Homo sapiens: one gene and its partners. The protein of the gene in region 1 interacts with the protein of each later gene in a pairwise test. Each region holds a gene or a part of one and is shown in the gene's direction. Other genes may lie near its edges.

What was found. The genes of interacting proteins can lie anywhere in the genome.
Region 2: the proteins of SEMA3B (region 1) and KRTAP19-5 interact in binary tests that used the Homo sapiens proteins (3 or more experiments, as listed by UniProt).
Region 3: the proteins of SEMA3B (region 1) and CARD10 interact in binary tests that used the Homo sapiens proteins (3 or more experiments, as listed by UniProt).
Region 4: the proteins of SEMA3B (region 1) and NOTCH2NLC interact in binary tests that used the Homo sapiens proteins (3 or more experiments, as listed by UniProt).

Annotation. Positions count from the first base shown.
Region 1 is NC_000003.12:50,268,020-50,271,946, forward strand, and holds the start of SEMA3B (semaphorin-3B isoform 1 precursor), read left to right. Parts: upstream 1-1,127; 5' UTR 1,128-1,221; coding exon 1,222-1,330; intron 1,331-2,107; coding exon 2,108-2,265; intron 2,266-2,413; coding exon 2,414-2,476; intron 2,477-2,870; coding exon 2,871-2,990; intron 2,991-3,068; coding exon 3,069-3,162; intron 3,163-3,341; coding exon 3,342-3,461; intron 3,462-3,927. UniProt on the Homo sapiens protein: Inhibits axonal extension by providing local signals to specify territories inaccessible for growing axons.
Region 2 is NC_000021.9:30,501,157-30,503,503, reverse strand, and holds KRTAP19-5 (keratin-associated protein 19-5), read left to right. Parts: upstream 1-1,362; 5' UTR 1,363-1,413; coding exon 1,414-1,632; 3' UTR 1,633-1,847; downstream 1,848-2,347. UniProt on the Homo sapiens protein: In the hair cortex, hair keratin intermediate filaments are embedded in an interfilamentous matrix, consisting of hair keratin-associated proteins (KRTAP), which are essential for the formation of a rigid and resistant hair shaft through their extensive disulfide bond cross-linking with abundant cysteine residues of hair keratins.
Region 3 is NC_000022.11:37,502,416-37,505,915, reverse strand, and holds part of CARD10 (caspase recruitment domain-containing protein 10), read left to right. Parts: intron 1-1,146; coding exon 1,147-1,281; intron 1,282-1,614; coding exon 1,615-1,730; intron 1,731-2,702; coding exon 2,703-2,731; intron 2,732-3,190; coding exon 3,191-3,314; intron 3,315-3,500. UniProt on the Homo sapiens protein: Scaffold protein that plays an important role in mediating the activation of NF-kappa-B via BCL10 or EGFR.
Region 4 is NC_000001.11:149,463,621-149,467,120, forward strand, and holds part of NOTCH2NLC (notch homolog 2 N-terminal-like protein C), read left to right. Parts: coding exon 1-206; intron 207-456; coding exon 457-533; 3' UTR 534-3,500. UniProt on the Homo sapiens protein: Human-specific protein that promotes neural progenitor proliferation and evolutionary expansion of the brain neocortex by regulating the Notch signaling pathway.

The DNA of each region.
Region 1 (3,927 bases):
GCTCCTAGAGTGAAGGGGCTCAAAGATGGGGAAGAACTCAAGGGGTGAGAGAAGTGAAGGGAGAGGCTCAGAGAGGCTGTGGAGGCGTTGAGAGGGAAGGCCAGCTCAGCGAGGCCAGGAGGCTGGGGTGCAAATGAAGGGCTGCCTCACCTTGCCCCTCTTTGATTCCTCAGGGGTGTGGAGAGAGAGCCCTCAAGCTCAAATGCAGAGGCTGCTTCAGCTGGGTTGGGAGCAGTCCCCAAGTCAGAGGCTGAGGCTTCTGCCCAGGTCTTGGGTCTCCTGGGTAGCACTTCTCCCTCTGAGGAATGGAGTGATTGATGCTGCAGTTGGATTTGCTCACTTGCATGCCCAGAGACATGTCTATTCTTATGGGTGCACACGTTTGCACATGCACAAATGTGCAACACATCTGTGTGCAAAATATGCACATATCACACATATGTACTGCATGGATTGCACAGTGCCACATGTGTGTGCACACCAACCCATATCCACACATGTGCAATATGACACACTATATATTTGCACATAGATGTGCACACACATGCACATACACACTACACACATGCGCACATCACAAGGGGACACTCGGAAACACATTCACAGGCACCCACACCCTTGGCTCCAGCCTCAAAAGTGTCTCTGTGTTTTTCTGCGGGACTGTGGGGACACTGCCACCTCCAGAGGCCTGACCCCCTCCTGTCACTCTCACTCTTTTGACTGGCTTGTTTTGCTCATTGCACTTGGCACCCTCTGCATCCATCTGATTCCTTGTTGGCACTCTGTCCCCTTTCACATGGGGACCTTGTCTATGTCTCCCAGTATCCCTCCTCCCAGGTCTAGGCTGGCATGAAGTGGGTGGCACATTGTGAATTAATGTCTGTGAGTGTGTATACAAGAGAGGAGATTACTGGGAAGGGTGACGTGGTGAGGCGGGCTTGCCAGTGCAGGGTGACCCTGAGGGTGTGCCCAGTGGCGTGGGTGTGTCTGTGATTGTGGCCAGGCGGGGCACCCTCGGAGGGGAGGGTTCGGAAGTGGAATGCGACCCCCCAGCCTCTTTCCCCTAGGGGCTGTAATCTGATCCCTGGGGACTCCCCCCCTAGCCTCCCGCCCTCGCCCTCACTGCTGACTCCTCTTCCAGATCCTGGGGCAGAGTCCAGGGCAGCTCAAGGCTCCTCCACACACACACCCGCTGAACCCTGAGCACCCTGAGCTGCTGAGATGGGGCGGGCCGGGGCTGCCGCCGTGATCCCGGGCCTGGCCCTGCTCTGGGCAGTGGGGCTGGGGAGTGCCGCCCCCAGCCCCCCACGCCTTCGGCTCTCCTTCCAAGGTAGGTGCACCTGGCAGGCGGGAGGGCCCAGCTTGAGGTGGGCAGGAAAGGGTCCCCGTATGGCCAGGGGGCTCTGTGTTGGCTGTTGCCCCATGTGCGTGCCTGTCACCAGACTCTGGTAGGATTAGTGGGCACTCTCAGGCCACCTCCAGTTAACCCTGTCCGGGCCTCAGCCCCCAGCCTCTGCCCACATTCTCTTCGTGCTTTCTCAGGAAGACCCCTCCTGTCCCCACAGCAACAGACCTTGTCTCTGTTCCGTTCAGTACCCCCAACAAGGCGATACTCCTTCAGCAGAGCAACAGGGAAGTCAGAGCCCCCTTCTCATGCCTCCTGTATAGGAGGGTGGCCCCTGGGCAGTGGCAGTGAATAGGCAGTTCTGCTGAGCTCAGGCTGGTGGTGGAGTGGCAGGAAAGGAACTCTCAGCCTGACTTTTGGGAGTTGGGGTTCTGGCCATCCCTGCATGCCAGTCTCCCCCAGGACTCTGGTGTCCATAAGCCTTGCCTCCCAGTGCGCCCGCCTGGAGACACCACCTGTCTGAGCATGCCCAAGTTCAACCTGCCTTCCTCTTCCTGGGGGGATGTACCACCTACCCTGGCAGCTCCACACGTGCACCTGGGTGGGCTTGGGTTTGCGTGTGTAAACTCACACACATGTAAACTCACATGTGTACAGGCCAGGTCCTAATGGCAACCTTGGCCGATAGAGTCACCACCAGGCAGGACCTGGGGGAGGCTTCCAGCATGGCTGGCGAGTCATCAGCAGTGTCCTGCCCTGCAGAGCTCCAGGCCTGGCATGGTCTCCAGACTTTCAGCCTGGAGCGAACCTGCTGCTACCAGGCCTTGCTGGTGGATGAGGAGCGTGGACGCCTGTTTGTGGGTGCCGAGAACCATGTGGCCTCCCTCAACCTGGACAACATCAGCAAGCGGGCCAAGAAGGTGCCAGGGACTCCCAACCCCAGCACTCCCCAGGGAAGGAGCCCTGGGACCCCACTCCAGCCTGGAGAGACCCAGAGGAATGGCTCCCTGAGGTAGAGAATATCCCAAGTTCCTGACCTGTGTCCCCTCTCCCCCAACCTCCCGATAGCTGGCCTGGCCGGCCCCTGTGGAATGGCGAGAGGAGTGCAACTGGGCAGGGAAGGACATTGGTGTGAGTGCCAGCTGCCCGGGCCGGGAGTGGGGAGGGTCAGCCCCTCACCCCAGAGACAGGGCAGGGCTAAAACAGAGGCCTGCCTGTTCTGGCTGGGATGAGGGCAGGGAGGTCGAGGTGGCTGAGGTCTGGGGGTGGTGAGTCAGGGTGGGGGCTCGTGTAATTCTTCTGGGGTGCCTCTGAGTCATGGGAGGCTTTGCAGGCCTGTGCTTCCCCAGACACCCACCCTCGTGAGGCCTGGGCTGGTCAGCAAGGGCCCCCAGGTCCCTGTAGCCCATGTTAGTACTTGCCTGGGCTGATGCCGAAGAGAGGGAGGGGTGAGGATGCCACTGGTGAGCTGGGACCTCTTAAGGCTACGTCCCTGGGGGAAGCCTCACACCTCCAACCCTACTAGACTGAGTGCATGAACTTCGTGAAGTTGCTGCATGCCTACAACCGCACCCATTTGCTGGCCTGTGGCACGGGAGCCTTCCACCCAACCTGTGCCTTTGTGGAAGTGGGCCACCGGGCAGAGGTAAGGCCGGATCTAGGCAGGGAGGGAGGTCAGGAGGGTAAGAAGGGCCTGGTAGTCACAACTTGCCACACCTCCCAGGAGCCCGTCCTCCGGCTGGACCCAGGAAGGATAGAGGATGGCAAGGGGAAGAGTCCTTATGACCCCAGGCATCGGGCTGCCTCCGTGCTGGTGGGTGAGTCCAAGGGCTAAGGCCCCAAGAGAACCCCTTAGAAACTCTAGAACCTCACAAAGTCCCAAGACCCCCAAGAGCTCCAGGGAATCCCCCATAACCTCACTCACTCCCAGAGCTCCCCAGGCCCTCCTGCCCCAAGAGCCCTCCATTTGCCTGAGTGGCCCTTGCTCTGTCTGCAGGGGAGGAGCTATACTCAGGGGTGGCAGCAGACCTCATGGGACGAGACTTTACCATCTTTCGCAGCCTAGGGCAACGTCCAAGTCTCCGAACAGAGCCACACGACTCCCGCTGGCTCAATGGTGAGAGGCTGGTGGGGTTGGTGGGTAGAGGTCGTCACCCTCCCACAGGGCAGGTGCCAAGCAAGGCCCATAAAGTAAGTGAGCAGTGGGTGTGGCCAGGTCTTACCAAATACCCTCCTTAATCAGGCACTGGCGTCACAGAGACAGACAAGACAGGTATGACCGTGACCTCTTTGAGTTCACAGATCACATACATGATAAGATCAAGTCCAATGGCCTTGAGGCCAGAGAGAGACAAGGGAGGAAGGGAAAAGGAGACTGGGTGGCTGGAGGGGGTTGGGTAAAGGAAGCCGCTGTGCTGAGGGGAGTATGAGCTAATTCCCAAGCACAAGACAGCTAGCCAGCAAAATTTAGGGATGAGCATTCCAGGCAGAGGGAGCATTCCAGGCAGAGGGAGCAACTAGTGCAAAGGCCTGGATGCAAGAACAAGCAAAGGAATAGACTTGCAGAGCTAGCAATGAAAAGG
Region 2 (2,347 bases), on another chromosome or scaffold:
AATGAGTACAGGATAGACATAGAAGAACATCAGAATCACGCCTGTAATCCTAGCACTTTGCGGGGCCGAGGCGGGCAGATCACGAGATCAGGAGATCAAGACCATTCTGGCTAACATGGTGAAACCCCGTCTGTACTAAAAATCCAAAAAAAATAGCCAGGCGTGGTGGCGGGCGCCTGTAGTCCCAGCTACTGGGGAGGTTGAGGCAGGAGAATGGCGTGAACCCGGGAGGCGGAGCTTGTAGTAAGCCGAGATGGTGCCACTGCACTCCAGACTGGGCGACAGAGTGAGACTCCGTCTCAAAAAACAAACAAACAAAAAAATCAGGAAAGATGTTACAGTGAATACAAAGAGGAGATAGAAAAAAAAAAGCGTTGAGATAAGTCGATGGAAGACAGAGGGAATGTATGCAATAAACTTCTACCTGGCTGTTTCTATAGACATTAAGAAAATGGGAAGAAGAATAAAAGCTGAAATGAGAAAGGAAATAGAGGTCATATATACACTACTGAAAAATGATAAAGAAAGAAAGTAATTGACTAGAATGTGCAAAACAGAGGCAGATGCAATCTGCAATTTTACCAGGACTTTGAATAAAACCAATTATAAAGGAGAGTTTTAGGACTTGAATGGAAAACTAAAGTGCTACTCTGATAAGTCTGCGTAGGAGATGGATTTTGTGCCCTCAATTTCTGAAATTAATTCTTATGTATTTTGCAACCAAAAGGTTCTGAAGCTGGTGTGCAAAGTCAAAAATAGTATAAAAGTTATTGTGAATAAAATGCTAAAAATCAGCATACACTCTCTTTTTTTGAGTCCTTTGGCGATTGTACACAGCAGGGCATTAAAATCATTTTGATTTCAAATGTTTTCCTGTATTGTGCATATAGGCACTTTCTGAAGACCTCACCTTGATAAATAAGTTTGCTTTTTAAAACTATAGATTTAACATCTGTAAATTGAAAAAACAGCTGTAAATTTAGTTGAATATGAAGTTATCAGTTTGGAAGATGACGGACAAAGGAAATTATTCATTATAAAAGGAATACCATAAAGTGTAGATGATGTAATACACCTGGTAATAGGCAATTCTGTTGAGCATTTGGAATGTGCATATTTTGAACAGTAAGCCCTTTCTTTTCATAAAAGCAAAGCAGTAAGTTCAATCGTGTCCTGAATAAGACATTAAGTAAGCTGAAATATTTTAATGAGAATGAGGGCATCTCCCTACATCAGAAGACAATAGATAAATGAGTTGTAACATCAAACGTAATACAAATAACTATAGCAAAGGAGGGTATACAGATGACTCATCACACGCTCTGACCAGGGTATATAAGCCTCCTACACATGCTGGTGTTCACACTCAGGATCTTGCCTTGAGCAGCATACCAACTCACCACTCCTGACACCATGAACTACTACGGCAACTACTATGGAGGCCTGGGCTACGGCTACGGAGGCTTCGATGACCTGGGCTATGGCTATGGCTGTGGATGTGGCAGCTTCCGCAGACTGGGCTATGGCGGTGGCTACGGAGGCTACGGATACGGCTCTGGCTTCGGAGGCTATGGATACCGCAGCTGCCGTCCATCATGCTATGGAGGATATGGATTCTCTGGATTTTATTGAAATCCTTCCCTGACAACCTAACATGAGGGGACATAAGAAGATCACCCAAACCTGACTGCAATAACAAACAAACGAGGTCACCCTGGATCAAGCCAAGATCAAGAGCAGTTAGCATCTAAGAGGTTTAAGAATACCTATCATTCCATAATTCTTTGCTTTATGTCTCTGGATGTGTCTTACTTGTACCTTTATAACTGTGGGGTTTCTCTGTTCCTTTTAGAATAAATTATGCTAACTGAAAGCAAATACACGACTTTTGTTTTTTGCTTGACTCAAAATGGCAAAGTGGTTATTTGTAATTATATCCAGTGAAAAAAGAACAAACTACTATACATATAGAAGTATATTATATATAACAAAATAATTTTGTATATACATGCACCTATCTATATAGCTGTATGTATGTGTGTGCATGTATATATTCACATTCAAAGGTCACAGTTGACCCTTGAATAATGTAGGGGTTAGCAGTACTGATTCCCCCATGCAGTTGAAAATCCACATATAACTTTTGACTCTCCAGAAACCTAACTACTGGTAGCCGACTGTTGACTGGAAGCCTCACTGATAACATAAACAGTTGATTAACACATACTTTGTGTTTTATATGCATTATATACTGTATTCTTACAATAAAGTAAATAAGAGAAAAGAAAATGTTATGAAAATAATAAGGAAGAGAATTTATATTTACTGTTTGTTAAGTGGAAGCGAC
Region 3 (3,500 bases), on another chromosome or scaffold:
ACTGGGGAAGGCTGGCTGCCTGAGTGCCTGTGTGCATGTTAGAATGCAAAACCTGGGCCTCAGAGACCAGCTAGTCAGGACTAACATGGGCCTAAGCATCCCTCAGAGACCAGCTGGTCTAATCCTCTCATCGCACAGGGCCCAGAGAGGGTGAGGGGCTTGCCCAAGGCCACACAGCCAGCTAGCACTGGAGCTGGAGTCCCAGACCCACTGTAAATTGGATCGTGGTCCTCAGGCTGCTGCCGGGAGCTCTGCTTTTTCCTTTTTTTTTTTTTTTTGAGACAGAATCTTGCTGTATCACCCAGGCTGGATCCCAGGTTCAAGTTATTCTCGTGCCTTAGCCTCCCTAGTAGCTGGGACTACAGGTGCCTGCCACCATACCCAGCTAAGTTTTTTTTTGTATTTTCAGTAGGGATGGGGGTTTCACCATGTTGGCCAGGCTGGTTTCAAACTCCTGACCTCAAGGGATCCTCCTGCCTCAGCCTCCCAAAGTGCTGGGATTAGAGGTGCGAACGCCCAGCCTGCGTTTTCTTATTTTGAGTTGCCTGACAGTGAGCTCCGCAGGCCTGGTGTTTGAAGCACTGGGGCCTGGAGGAATATAGGAAAAGTCAGCATTAATCCAAGACTTTTTTTTTTTTTTAACCCCCAGTGGCTTTTTTGCTGTTTGGTAAAGACAGAGTCCCTTTTCATGGCCAAGAGGCCCTGCGGGTGGGGTTCCTCTTGTCCTCTCGCCTGGTTCTGTGGGTTCCAGTCTTTCAACTGGAATGCATCACAGTCCTGCCTCAGGGCCTTTGCACATGCTGTTGATCTGCCTGGACCATCCCAGCTTGACCTACTTAGCGCCTCTATACCCTTGAGTTCTCAGTTCAAACCACAGTTTCTTTGGAGAGTACTTGGACTCCCAGGCTGGGTGGGGTCTTTGTGTGTTTTCCATGCCCTGGGCACCTTCCTTCTGCTATTGTCTCAGCTTGGGGCTATTTTGTTCACATGTCTGCTGGTTTACAGTTTATCTCCCATTCTAGGCTGTGAGCTCCCTGAGGACAGGGATCTGTCCCTGTGCTGGCACATGGCAGGTGCTCAGTAAAGGACTGTGGTTGACGTGGGCCTAGCACTGCTCACCTCCTTCCTCTCCTCTCCCTCTTCCAGGCCTGTGCCTCCTCCCATTCCCTGTGCTCCAACCTCAGCAGCACTTGGAGCCTGAGCGAGTTCCCCTCCCCTCTGGGAGGCCCAGAAGCAACTGGGGAGGCAGCTGTCATGGGGGGACCTGAGCCTCACAACTCGGTAAGACAACTGCCCCATCCCAAATAAGGGGGGACACTGCTATAGCATTATTACTAATGTGGAGAGTGCTTTCTGAAGGATCCATTTCACAGGTGAGGACACTGAGGCGCAGGGAGGCCAAGTACTTTACTGAAGCTCACCCAGAACCATTTCCTTGCCAGGCATAGGTGCCAGGAGGCGTGGGGAGCCACCCGCACACTATAATCTTGCAGAGCCCGCTCTTCTGCTCTGGGCCCTACTTCTCATTTGTGGAATGGGCACAAACCAGGTGTGCTGAGGACTGGGATGGTGCTGGGCAGTGGGGGTGACCCAGGCCCTGTCATGGCATTGCAGGAGGAAGCCACAGACAGTGAAAAGGAGATCAATCGGCTCTCCATCCTGCCCTTCCCCCCCAGTGCCGGCTCCATCCTCCGCCGGCAGCGTGAGGAAGACCCCGCACCCCCTAAGAGGTGAGATGGCTGGGGATAGCAGTAGACACCCAGGGAGGTGGGGCTGCCGTTTCCCGAACAGCCACCTCCCAGAATCTGCAATGCCAAAGTCAGGTCCAGGCAGTCACTTCCCTTTATTGCCCTCAGATGGCTGGAGCTCTGGAAACCCAGGTCCTGTGAGTCACAGGGGCGACCAAGGTCAGGCTTAAGATAAGGCCGATGGGCAGAGCGAACTCAGTCCTAGCCAAGCATCCTGGCAGGAGGGTCACTGGGGGTCAAGCCTTGAAGATCCTATACCCAAGGAGAAGCTTGATGGTTCAGGACTAGGGGGCGTGGAGAATGTTTCAAGGTATCAGGGACCTCCGGCAAGAAAGCCAGGCCCCAGGTTTGGGCATCAGCAGCAAATAGGGACCAGAAAAACCAAGGCGCACCCTCTGGTGGCAAGACCAAGGGCGGGAGATAGCCTGCCTCCTGGGGCGCGATCCTTGTCACTGCTTTTCCCCTGTAAGCAGCCCTTGATTTATTCCTTTACTGGTGAGAGGCTGGGCCCTGGGAGGCTGTGGTCAGTATGGCCTTGATCTGCGTAAATCTGTCCCAAGGAGGTGTCTGATGAGGAGGTCATGGTTTAATTTAGGAGGCGTACCTGGGAGTCACAAACCACAAAGGTGGCAAGTGAGGGTGAGGTGAGGGGTGAGAGATCAGGGGTGGCTTCCAGGAGGAGGTGGCATTGAAAGAGCTGGCTTTGAAGGGCATGCCAGGGCATTGTAGGTGGAACAACATTGGACAGAGGCCAGGACATTAACTTCTTACCCTGGGAGTTTAGGGGAGCCAGGTGGCATGGGTGCCCTGTACCTGGGACCCTGCCTTGAGTCTAGCCTGCATTTGCTTGGGGGCTGTGAGACATTTATCTGGTGTGGGGGCAGGAGGAGGGAGCGGGGCAGAGTGCCCACTGTGCCTCACCTCCTGCCCCCTCCCTGCCCTCTCTCTGCCCAGATCCTTCAGCAGCATGTCAGACATCACAGGTAACAGCCCTTGAGTTCCGTGGGGAGGGCTCCTCTGGTCGGGGGAGGTGGCTTTGCAGCCCACCTGAAGCCTGCACCACCTGCGCTACCTTTGGCCTGCATCCCCTTCCCTGAAGCCCCGCCGTGGCCCCTGCCAGGCAGGAAGGTTGTGCTTGGGAGGACCCTGGGGACTTTGGTTCCAGCCTCTCACCCCGAGCCCAGTCCTGGGCCTCACTCCTGTTCCCGGCTGTGATGTACGAGGCTCTTCAGTTCTGGGCCACCTTTCACCCTCTTCTGGGAAACTGCGGGGTCAGCCTGGTGGGCCCTGACCTATCTCTGAGCCCAGTGGGTCTGATGTGCTCCTGGGGCCTCAAACCTGCCAAGGCCTCTCTGGGCTGGAGGGGGGTCAGTCCCTGTCATGGACCCTGGCCATCCCTGTTTCCCAGTGCCAGATCCCTGAACCTCATTCTTTTTCCCCAGGGAGTGTGACACTTAAGCCCTGGTCCCCTGGCCTCTCTTCGTCCTCATCCTCTGACAGCGTGTGGCCTTTGGGAAAGCCGGAAGGCCTCCTGGCTCGGGGCTGTGGCCTGGACTTCCTCAACAGGTACTGTAGCTGCCTGCAGTGGGTGGAGCTGGGGTGATTGCTTGAGAGGGGAACAGGAGTGAGGTGGGAGGAGCAATTGCCTCGCCCCTGTTTTATGCAACTATTGGAAGATTAAGATCTGTAGACACTGGCAGCCCTTGGATTCCAATCCTGCTGCCGCTCTTGATCGTCCCTGTGACTTGGGCT
Region 4 (3,500 bases), on another chromosome or scaffold:
TGTCAATGAGTGTGACATTCCAGGACACTGCCAGCATGGTGGCACCTGCCTCAACCTGCCTGGTTCCTACCAGTGCCAGTGCCTTCAGGGCTTCACAGGCCAGTACTGTGACAGCCTGTATGTGCCCTGTGCACCCTCGCCTTGTGTCAATGGAGGCACCTGTCGGCAGACTGGTGACTTCACTTTTGAGTGCAACTGCCTTCCAGGTAAGGAGCTCCCTAGTGTCCCAGGATTAGGGGACAAACCCCTAGCACAGGAGGTAGTGGGTGTGGCTCAATTGCTTTTTTTAGGAAGCGCAAGGAAAAAGGGAAGTGAGAATTTTGTGTGGGGTGGGTTGCTAGTGAGGGAGGAGTTTTATGGGCCCACTGTGGTCCATAAACTGAGCAGGGGATAATTTAGCATGTCAGGGTTTATGATGATGAGTGGCTAGAAAATTGTTTATTGTCCCTTTTGTAGAAACAGTGAGAAGAGGAACAGAGCTCTGGGAAAGAGACAGGGAAGTCTGGAATGGAAAAGAACACGATGAGAATTAGACACTGGAAAATATGTATGTGTGGTTAATAAAGTGCTTTAAACTGAATTGACATTAACAGTAGGTGATCAACTTTACTATGTGCTTGTGCTTTTGCTTTTGATGGAGTAATTCATTGTTTTCTTATCCACCTAAATGCACCCAGCTGCCCTTGATTTTCTCTGGGCTACTGGCCTTCACAACCCTCTCCCATGTACCCTCTCTGACTTTGGGGTAACCCTCCCCTAACTTAAAGCTAGAGAATTCTGAAACTGAGGAGGGGATCCTCTGTTAATCAGTGAGCACTTTTTGATGAGCTGATAGATGATATATGAGAGACTATGCGTGGCACAATACTTTGTTACACTCTTCACTGATACAAGTGTTCTAGAGTGCACACACAACCCAAAGATAGAAATAAAAAGAGGAGCAGTGTCGGGGAGCTTGGGGCCTGGTGTTCCATGGAGAGGGAGAAAGGAACAAGCTTGGCCAATTCATTCAACTCCTTATAAAAATGATGAGGAGGCTGAAAACCAAGAATTTTGATTGGGAACAGAATACAAGCAGCTGAAGCAGATGAATTACTAAGCAACAAAGATCCTGTTTTTATACAAATATCCTTAGTACAAAAACAAAAGAAGGAAAACTGTAGGGGGGAGTAATGTGCTAAGTAAGCAGAATTGCCTCCAAAAGAAGTTGTTCTAGTTACTCTTTCAGAGTGGGAATCTTAGATTCTGGTATTGTGGATATGGTTCACATATAATGGGATTGTGTGTTTTATTTTGGAGGAATTAAAGGTCATAGTTTGGTCCTCAGTATAAAATCAACTGGTAATTTGTTCATTTCATTTGGTAAAAATGTATTGACTGCCTGCTATGTTCTAGGCACCATGCTGTGTATTTGGAATACAGCTATACAAAGCATTGTCACATAATTGAAATGAAAATTTTATATTATTTAAGTCACAAGAACAAGCTATTTAATTATATTACTTTTAGTTTCTCTTTTAATAAAGAATAGATAATGCTATCATTCTAGATACTAAATAAGTATTTTCTTAACATAATATTACTATCCACTTTATCTTGTAGAAGAAATAACTAAAATACATCTGTCTTCACTCCTGTATTTGTTTGCATTTTAAGGATTAAAGACAGAAATAGAAATGTAAACAACTTTATTTTGAAAATATTTCAACACTGCAAATATCTCTGGGTCTGATATTCTAGTAATCTAATTGGCTAGTAATTGATGTTAGTGTGATTTATTGTTGAAGGCTAAATGTGTTTTTCAGTTTCAAGAAAATTGCTTTTAATAATTGCCTAGAACAAGAGGTTGATTTGGCAGCAAGATGTTGACGGGAAGTTAGAGAAGTCAATAAAGGAAGTTTTTAGCTGAGAGAGAGTGATTATTCACTCCCATAGCCTCTGCATTGTTATCCATTAGCCACGATAAGAACCTTAGGGAATTCTGAGAGTGTGTCCAGGAAAGGATCTGTCAAACTAGAATAGTATCTCCTCCTTGAGAAAGGAAATAACCAAGGATTCCGCAGCTGAGAGGCTGCCAGGGCTAGTGAAATAGAGTAAGGAAATCTTGGCTGTCTCTTATTCTCTGGTTGTAGTTTAACGCAAGACACTTATTTACTCACTGATGGTGTGTGTGTGTGTGGGAGGGGAGATTAGCATGAGGGGTGGGAATGGGGAGATTTGATGAAGAGAAAACTAACATTTTTTTGGTGACTCAGGAACTGTGCCAGGTACTTCCATGCTTATTAGCTCAATTACACAAAAATCTTGGGACCAGGTATTATTTTTCAAGTCTTCCCACATGAAGTAACTGAAGTTTGGAGATGTTAAGTGATTCACCCAAAGTTGTACAGCTAATATGTGGTTAGGCTGGGTCCTGAAACCGAGGCAGTTTATTTTCAAAGCCTTTGCTTTGTGCATCTTACTGCGCCACATTGCACTGCACATCTGCTTCCTGAAAGCACTTTGTAGGTGTGTAAAACTTTTCGTTAAATGCTTTAAGCTGTTTGGGTTAAAAATATATGTTCATGTTATAAGAAAACCAAGACACTCCTAATTATAATCAAATAGTACTTGTTACATATCAATATGTGTGTGTGTGTGTGTGTGTGTGTGTGTGGTATATATATATATATCGCATTGTGCAGATGTTTAAAAGTAGTTACATAGACTAGTTCTTGCTTTTCAGGGTCCCATAATCTAAACCAGATGACTTCAGCTTTGGATAAATATATAGAAGGAAATTTAAAGAGAATTCAAAACAATAGATGATGCAGTGACACTGTGAATAAATGTTATTTATACAGTTTGTAAGATTTCATGCTCATTGTTCGTATGTCCCAGGTGGAGTTCAGAAAATATTCAGTTCATTTCCACAAAGGGAAATAGTGCCTAGAGATGGTTTTCTTTTAAAAAGTCCTTTTCATAATGCAGTGCCCTTCCTTCCATTGCCCTTCATTCCATTGCTTCCCATGCTTGTCAAGAGACTAAAATGTTACTTATAGTAATAGTCACTATCTCAATGTAAATAGCACCCTTATTTGATGAGAATTATTATTTCAGTTCTAAAAATGGGGAAACAAAGTCAGCAGGAGGCAAAGTAGCTTGTTAAAGTATTCTGCAACTTTCAAATGGTTGCTTCCACTGCATTTCACGTCTTGGCACTTCTAATTGAGGGTTACTCTAACCACCCTATTTAAAATTGTAACTGTCCCCCACCCCCTTAATTACTAACCCTGGTCTACTTTTTGTTTTCTTTTTCTGTAACTCTTATCTTCTTACTATATAATTTATACTATATAATTTACTTCATTATGTCTATTGTTTATTGTCTGTCTTTTCCAAATTCTACTGCCTCTTACCCTCTCCAGAATGAAAACTAGTATCTTTGTTTTTGTTTACTGATGTAACCCAAACACCTACAAACAGTGCCCAGTATATACTAGGCCCGCAAATATATATTG